Linked DNA regions of Homo sapiens. The protein of the gene in region 1 interacts with the protein of each later gene in a pairwise test. Each region holds a gene or a part of one and is shown in the gene's direction. Other genes may lie near its edges.

Evidence for each region.
Region 2: the proteins of RIOK2 (region 1) and PRDM16 interact in a two-hybrid assay, tested with the Homo sapiens proteins (one large-scale study listed by BioGRID).

The regions. Positions count from the first base shown.
Region 1 is NC_000005.10:97,160,367-97,163,307, reverse strand, and holds the end of RIOK2 (serine/threonine-protein kinase RIO2), read left to right. Parts: intron 1-82; coding exon 83-247; 3' UTR 248-2,441; downstream 2,442-2,941. UniProt on the Homo sapiens protein: Serine/threonine-protein kinase involved in the final steps of cytoplasmic maturation of the 40S ribosomal subunit. Involved in export of the 40S pre-ribosome particles (pre-40S) from the nucleus to the cytoplasm.
Region 2 is NC_000001.11:3,067,992-3,072,002, forward strand, and holds the start of PRDM16 (histone-lysine N-methyltransferase PRDM16), read left to right. Parts: upstream 1-1,211; 5' UTR 1,212-1,268; coding exon 1,269-1,305; intron 1,306-2,222; coding exon of another isoform or gene 2,223-3,872; exon of another isoform or gene 3,873-4,011. Other genes in the region: translation initiation factor IF-2, read right to left, coding at 957-980, 2,223-3,872. UniProt on the Homo sapiens protein: Binds DNA and functions as a transcriptional regulator. Displays histone methyltransferase activity and monomethylates 'Lys-9' of histone H3 (H3K9me1) in vitro.

The DNA.
Region 1 (2,941 bases):
ATATATAAATAGAACAGATATTAGCAGTGTACTTTTTGAAATGGTTCATTATCAGTAATACTAATTTATGAAATCTTTCCAGGAACTGGTGAAACAGAAGGTGAAACGTCAGTTGACAAAACAGCAAAAATCAGCTGTCAGACGTCGATTGCAGAAAGGAGAAGCAAATATATTTACCAAGCAACGTAGGGAAAACATGCAAAATATCAAATCAAGTTTGGAAGCAGCCAGCTTTTGGGGAGAATAATATATTTAGGATCTTGGATATGTTTAATATATTTTTTAAAGTTACTGTAATTCCTTTTTGAGCCCTCATTTGTCTTTTTTGAGCCAAGGCTATCATATATTAATAAATAAACCCTCTTTCATCTATAAATTTGGTCATTCAGTATGTGTCTTGCAAAGAATAATTACCTGCCAAAGCAGTCCATTTTTTTCAAAGTAATTTGGGTAACTACAGTTACGTAACTTTATTAGAGACATTTGCATATTTTTAAAAATCTAAATAACATTTTTGTTGTTTTCTGTTTGTTGAGGATGATATGCTACAATGCACATAAAGCAATTAGAACAATGTTTAGCACATTCTTAAGCATTCAATAAAACATGGCTATTAGAATCATAATGATTCTGAAATTCTGCTGACAATTTGGTTGCATTTTATTTGGCAACTGGAGGACTTCACTGTCTTATTTTTCTTTAGAAGTAAAGATAAGCCTTTGGAAGTAAAGATAAGCCAGTGATGCACAATTTGCTTAATTAATTGATTAATAATCTGTTTTGTGCCACTTACATTGGTAATGTGGTCATGAGAATGGAAACTTACTTGAGATAGTCTACCACAATTTTTACAGTTGGCAGCTTGTAAGCAGGCCTGAGTAGCAGAAGAGTTAGGGGTTGGGGAAGGTGGAGTAGAATGAGGAATGAAATGTTCTTTCTCATATGCTTATTATATAAGTGGGTCCGGAACATGTTCTCACCTCAAGGTTAACAAATACCTAATGCAGGAAAGAAAATACATAGCCATGGTCCCTTCCTCAAGGACTTTATAATTCAGTGAGATGTAAAGATGAGTGCTTAAGTGTATGCACCTGATTATTGTCTCTTCATTGCCGCATAAGTCGGAAAAGGGGATCACTTGCAGCGAAAAATGGCCACTAGATGGCAATATCACCCCATAGTCACCAAACAGGATTACTTGCATCCCTAATTATGTTCTACCAGAGGGAATATAGTACAGACTTTTCCAAGATTGATAAAGACAGCAGATTCCCTTTCACCTTTGCCAAATTAACTCTACTAGCTATTTGCAAGACCTGTAATTATCTAATAAATTGGCTTAAATATATAGAAGCTAGAAAATGCCAATTCCTCTTCCCTCAAAAGTTACCTGACATTCAAATATTTAAATACCCTTGCTTTGCATTTTAGATATATCTTTGAATTCAGGTATTCATTTTGTATAATCTCTCAACTTTTAAGCATTTTTATAATGTAAAGTTGAAAACAGCTTAATAGAACCACAGAATGTTTATTTTGGAGTCATTTTCTTATATTCAGAGCTATGAAAGCAAATTGGGAATAAAGCCTTATCCTGCTCAGCTTTACCTAGTTGACTCAGTTGACTTTTGAGTATCTACTACATAAAAAGCCCATTACTATTAAGAAACTCAAGACAAACATGATTTTTACCTTTAATAGCCTAAGATTTCTTGTGGGCCAAGGAATTAATTATTCCAATCAGAAATGGAGGCCTTACCTCATTTGGGCAAAGATTAGTGCTAGTTATTGAAGATTTACTAATAAATGATCTGTTAAGGAATTTAGTTTTTTTTGGATATGTTGTTTTGGTTGTTGAAAACTAAGGTATAATTATAATAGTTATTTTTTGAAGATATGTTTGGCTAGCCATCAATTAGAAGTTAGAGAGTTTGTCCTAACAGATAAGCTATAACCCTCACATTTTAAAACATGCATAGTGAACAATGAACAAAAACAAATTCAAAATTTTACTAATGTAAAGCTGTATATTGTGATTGTTAAAACACTTTTTTTTGCCTAGGAGTTCCAGATTTAAATCCTGGTTCTACACTTCCCAAACCTCAGGTACCTTCTGTGGCCTCTCTAACCTCAATTTTTTTACTTGTAAAATGGGGACATTTAATAGTATACCTCAGTGTCGTGAAGACTAAATGAAGTACCACTTGTAAAGAGTTTATTACAGTGCCTGACATATACTGTATGGTTAGTACTGCTAAAATGACTTCTTAAGGTTACCAAAAGGAAAATTCCACAAGCTGACCACCTTTCCTATTGTGATGGTCACTGGTATTTCAGCTATGATCCTTTGTTGTGTATTTATCCAGACTGAAAGATGTTTTTCTAGTAACCATCTTGCATCGTCTTAGTCTCCCCATTAAATAAACTTTTCCTACAAACTATGCGGTTTATATTTGTGCTAACTTTGTGGTATTGATAGCCATTGGTCTGTTCTTTGGCACATAGCTGGCTATCTTTGAGGTTTCTCCAAAACCATAGATGTTTAATGGATACTAATCAGAGTTAGTGCAGCTCGAGATAATCATTCTTTTAGCCAACTGCTTAGTAAATTTTCTGACAAAATACATAGCTGTCTAATTAAAAAACTCTGCCTGATGCTGCCTTCCAGGTTGCTACTTACAAAGGATAGAGGGATGAGTTATGTTAGGTTCTCAGAGCACTTTCTGAAGTGTAGGTTTATTTCACTGTCACAGATTCAGCACTCTGGGTGGGCTACAGTTCGCCATGCCCAGTCTTCTTTATCCCTCCTTAGAACATCTCCCTAGAGAGCATCAGGCCATATCTTAATTCGCCCTTGCTTTAGTTTATGAAGTACTGGAGCCATCTTATGCACCTGTGTAAGGAGGCTGGAGATTAAAGTTCAGAAAAGCCATGGGTTACA
Region 2 (4,011 bases), on another chromosome or scaffold:
GCCACCCTGCCTGCGCTCAGCCCGGCCCCTCCGCCGCAGCGCCTCGGAGTTTGGGGGCTACAGGGGAAGAGGAAGCGTCTGGTCGGCTCCCGTCCGAGCTGCTCCACCTGCGCCGCTGGCCTTTCCGCCCGCTACGCACCTGGGCCCCGAGAGGCCAGAGGGGAGTGTCCCCAGTGGCCCGGGTCCCCGAAGGTGGCCCAGCTCGGGCGCTCGCGCAGCCGGGTACTCACCTTGGGGGCGCGGCGGCAGGAGAGCGCGGGCGGAGAGGTGCGGGCGCCCTGGGACGACCAGCCGAGGACGCCTGGTGTTTGGACGGCTGCCCCCGCGCTGTCCCCCCGTGCGAGGCGTGTTGGCCTCCGTGGCCTCGCGAGGGACCGAGGGCGGCGGGTCCGAGTGCCGCCCGCCGGCCTGGGCAGTGGCGGAGCGCGGAGCTGGCGGCGCCTCCGCTGTTGTTTTTGAGCCGCGAAGCCCGAAGCAGCAGCCGTTGGGTGGGGGCGAAGGGGAGGAGGCGGGGGCCGGGAGGCGCGAGGGGGGCGGTGGGGCCCGGAGGGGGCTTCGGAGGAGCCGGGTTCTGGCGCGCGAGCCCCGACGCCCCCTCCAGCGATCGCAGGGCGGGGACGGGGGCCGAGGGGAGAATGCAGGAGAAAAGCGGGCCGGGGCGACGGGGAACGCAAAGCTTTTAAATTAGTAATCAAACGCAGTAAAACGGAGCAAAACCAGCCCGGACTCGCGTCCGAACTATCGGCGCGTGTGCCCCGAGATCCAAGGAAGTCGTGTGGAAAACCGCAGCCGCCGCCCCATCTTCGGCCCCGGCTGGGGCGGGAGCAGCAGCGCGACGCGCCGCGACGCAGGGGCAGGGTGGGGGGATAGTCACCTCGCCTCCGGGGCCACCTGGGTCCTTTTAAAGTGTCCGGGGTGCGGGCCCCGGGCGGGAGCGCCGAACACGGAATGTTTTCTTAAAGGGCCAGTTCCGAGCTGCGCTGAAAAGGGGGGGGGGGAGAGGGGGGAGAGATAAGTGAGACGAAGACCGAGAAGGCCGAGGAGAGCCCCCCAATCCCGCGCCGAGGCGGCGGCGGCGGCGGCGGCGGCGCGACGATGAGGATGATGAATACATTGCAAAGTTTTTTTGGCCCCGGCGAGGGGTGTCAGATTGAGTGCTCTGTGCGCATGTGCGAAGGTGTCCAAACTGACAATGCTGGGGAGATGAAGATAGTGTGTGGCTGCTTCTGGACTCAAGGAGGAGGAGAGAGATTCCGCGAGCCGACACCATGCGATCCAAGGCGAGGGCGAGGAAGCTAGCCAAAAGTAAGTCTCCCGCGCTCGGCCGCGCCGCGCCGCCGGGGCCCGGGCCGCCGGGCCGGGGCGCCCGGGCCAGGGGTGCGCGTCGGGGCGCGGCCGGCGCGCCTGCGGCTCCGGGCCCCCGGCTCGGCCGCGCGGCCCGGGGGGCTGCTCCGCCTCCCGCGCTCCGGGGCGACCGGGCTCGGCGCGGAGGCTCGGGGCGCCCGGGCCGCGCGCTCCCCGAAGGCGCCGGCCCCCTCCCCGCGGAACCCCCTCCCCCCCCACCAGTGTCAGGCGCTCGGGCCCGGGAACCCGAGGCGCGCGGTGGGGGCCGGGGAGGGGGGCGGAGGGGGAGGGCCGGGGGTGGAGGGGAGCGAAAAGTGAAAGTTAGCGAAAAGTTGACGAAAGGGGAGAGCAACTTTTTCCTCCCCGCTCGCTCTCTCCCTCTCTCTCTCCGAGTGGCTCTCAGTCCTGGTCAAATCATATTCCGGGCTTTTGAAATAGTGGGCGCTAGAGCACCGCCTTTGGCGTCCGCCAGCCGGGCGCAGAGGAGGGAGACCCCGAGCCGGGGAGGGGCGGAGGAGGGGGCGCGGGCCGGCGCCCACCCGGCTCCGCGGGCGCAGGGGCAGGGGTGGCGACGGCGGGACAGCCGCAGCCACTTGGGGAGCAAAATGGAGACTTTTGCCCGGGCTGGGAACTGTGGTCGTGAAGTTTATCCCCGGCTGTGCCCCGCGTGGTGGAGGGCGCTCCTCTGGGACGCCGGCAGCCTGCGCGGGCCGCCGGGGCGACAGTGCCTCCGACAGGAGGGACCCACCCGGCCACCTCCCGACCCGCCGCTGCCGCCCTCGGGCCCGCGTGGACCCCTCTGTACCCGCTTGCCTGGCACAGCCGGGCCCGGCGGGGACAGAGCTGCCCCGGCCAGGCTGCCCGGTCCTCGGTCTTACTTTCTCTTTCGCTCCGTCTCGGCCGAGCCCCGGGCTCCGCGCGCCCCGCCTGCCGCCAGCCGGTCCTTGCCGCGGGCCGGGTGCTCCAGCCACCCGCGCCCTCGCCCGCCACAGCGCCTCCGAGCAGCCCGCGCGCACCCCGCAGCCCCGGTCGCCGGCGCCATCCGCGGTGAGGCGGGCGGGCAGGTGAGGACAGGCGGAGCCGCGGCCCGGCCAGCGCGGCTCCCGCAGCCCCGCCGAAGCCCCGGCTGCAGCGAAGCGGCCAGCGCCGCGCGGAGCGGAATCGGCGCCGCCTGCTCCCGCCGCCCCCTCCTCTGCAGGCCGCCCGCCCGCCCACCCGCAGAAGAGGCGCCCGGGCCGCTCCCCTCGAGGTCCCCGCCCGACCCACGCCGTTCCGTCCGCGCCTCCGGGGCCGGGTCCCTCCAGGCCGGCCTCGCAGCTCCCGGGGCCGAGCCCCCAAACGTGAGCCGGGTGCGCGCGGGACTCGCGGCGGTTTTCCGAAGCTCCGCTCCCTCGGCTCGGGGCCCGCCCGGCTCGTCCCAACAGCTGCCCCGCGGCCGTAGGCCCCGCGCTCTGTGCACCAGGGAAAAGCAGCTCCCGAGTTTGTGCCGGACGCTCCTGCGCCCCGCCATCGGCCGTTCCCGGCCCCTGGGTGAGGCGCCCCCTTCCCGCCGCGCTCCGCTGCCGGGTGCCCTCGGCCTCGGCCTCCCGTGACCTCTGACCCCTCTTGGTGCGAACAAGACCGGGCGTTTCGCCGCCGACGCGAAGGGGCTGTCTGTGCGCGGCGTTGCGGGCCCTCCGCGCGTGGGGTGTGCGTGTGCGTGTTCGGGTTCGGTTCTGTGTGTGCACCGCGGGCCTGCTCAGAGTCGGGACCACCGGGCTGCGTGTGGGCCGCCAGGTCAGGCCCTCGCCCAGGATGGGCCCTAAGCTGGAACGAGAAAGGGGAAACCGGCCGCGCTGACGCCGGGGCCTTCGCTGCAAGCGAGAGGCGGACTCGGCGCACCCGCGCGGCCCTGGAAACTTCCGAGAGGCCCCAGCTCTCCGCCGGCTCCACCTCTGCCAGGTGGGGAAGGTGGCCCGGGACCGGGTCCGCTCAGGACCAGAAGTGGTGCCTGGCAGCCATCTGGCCAGGAGGCCGGAGAGCCGGGCCCAGCGGGAGCGCCGAGCGCTGGCTTCCTTTTCCCGAGAGTCTTTAGTGAGGAAAAACCCCATGAGAGGTGACTGCCAGGCCTCGGCCCTCTGTCCACACTTGGCCGAGCGCTGGGAACCCCTCCTTCCAGGCTCCACAGCTGGGACCGCTTGTCCCAGGCCCCCCAAGGTGGCTGAGGCAGGTTCAGGATCACACTGCCTGCCCTGAGCAAGAAGGCAGGATCCGCTGAAGAATTTCATTTCATCAGGCGATATTTTAAGCAGATGTGAACTTCCCCGGGGACCATAGTCCATTACCCGAGTCAGAGGCGGTAGGGCCAGCACTCCAGCCAGCAGGTCCTCCCCTCCCCACAATGCTGACCAGGTCAGGGGACTGTGGGGTTGGGCAGGGGCAAGGTCATGGTTACCAGGTTGGTATTCAGGCTGGGCACAGAACAGCAACCAGGCCAGTGGAGGTGACCCCATGACCCAGCATTTCGGGGGCCACCGCCGAGTGTGCATCTGGAGGTGTAATTTCGTTTGTGTTTCCCTGGAGACCCCACTCCAAGCCTCAGTTCAGGTGGGTTAGTCCTCTGGATTGGGTCTTGTGAAGGGCCAAATGGTGGCGGCTCCGGGGGTGACCCGGGCTTCCAGCTGAGCT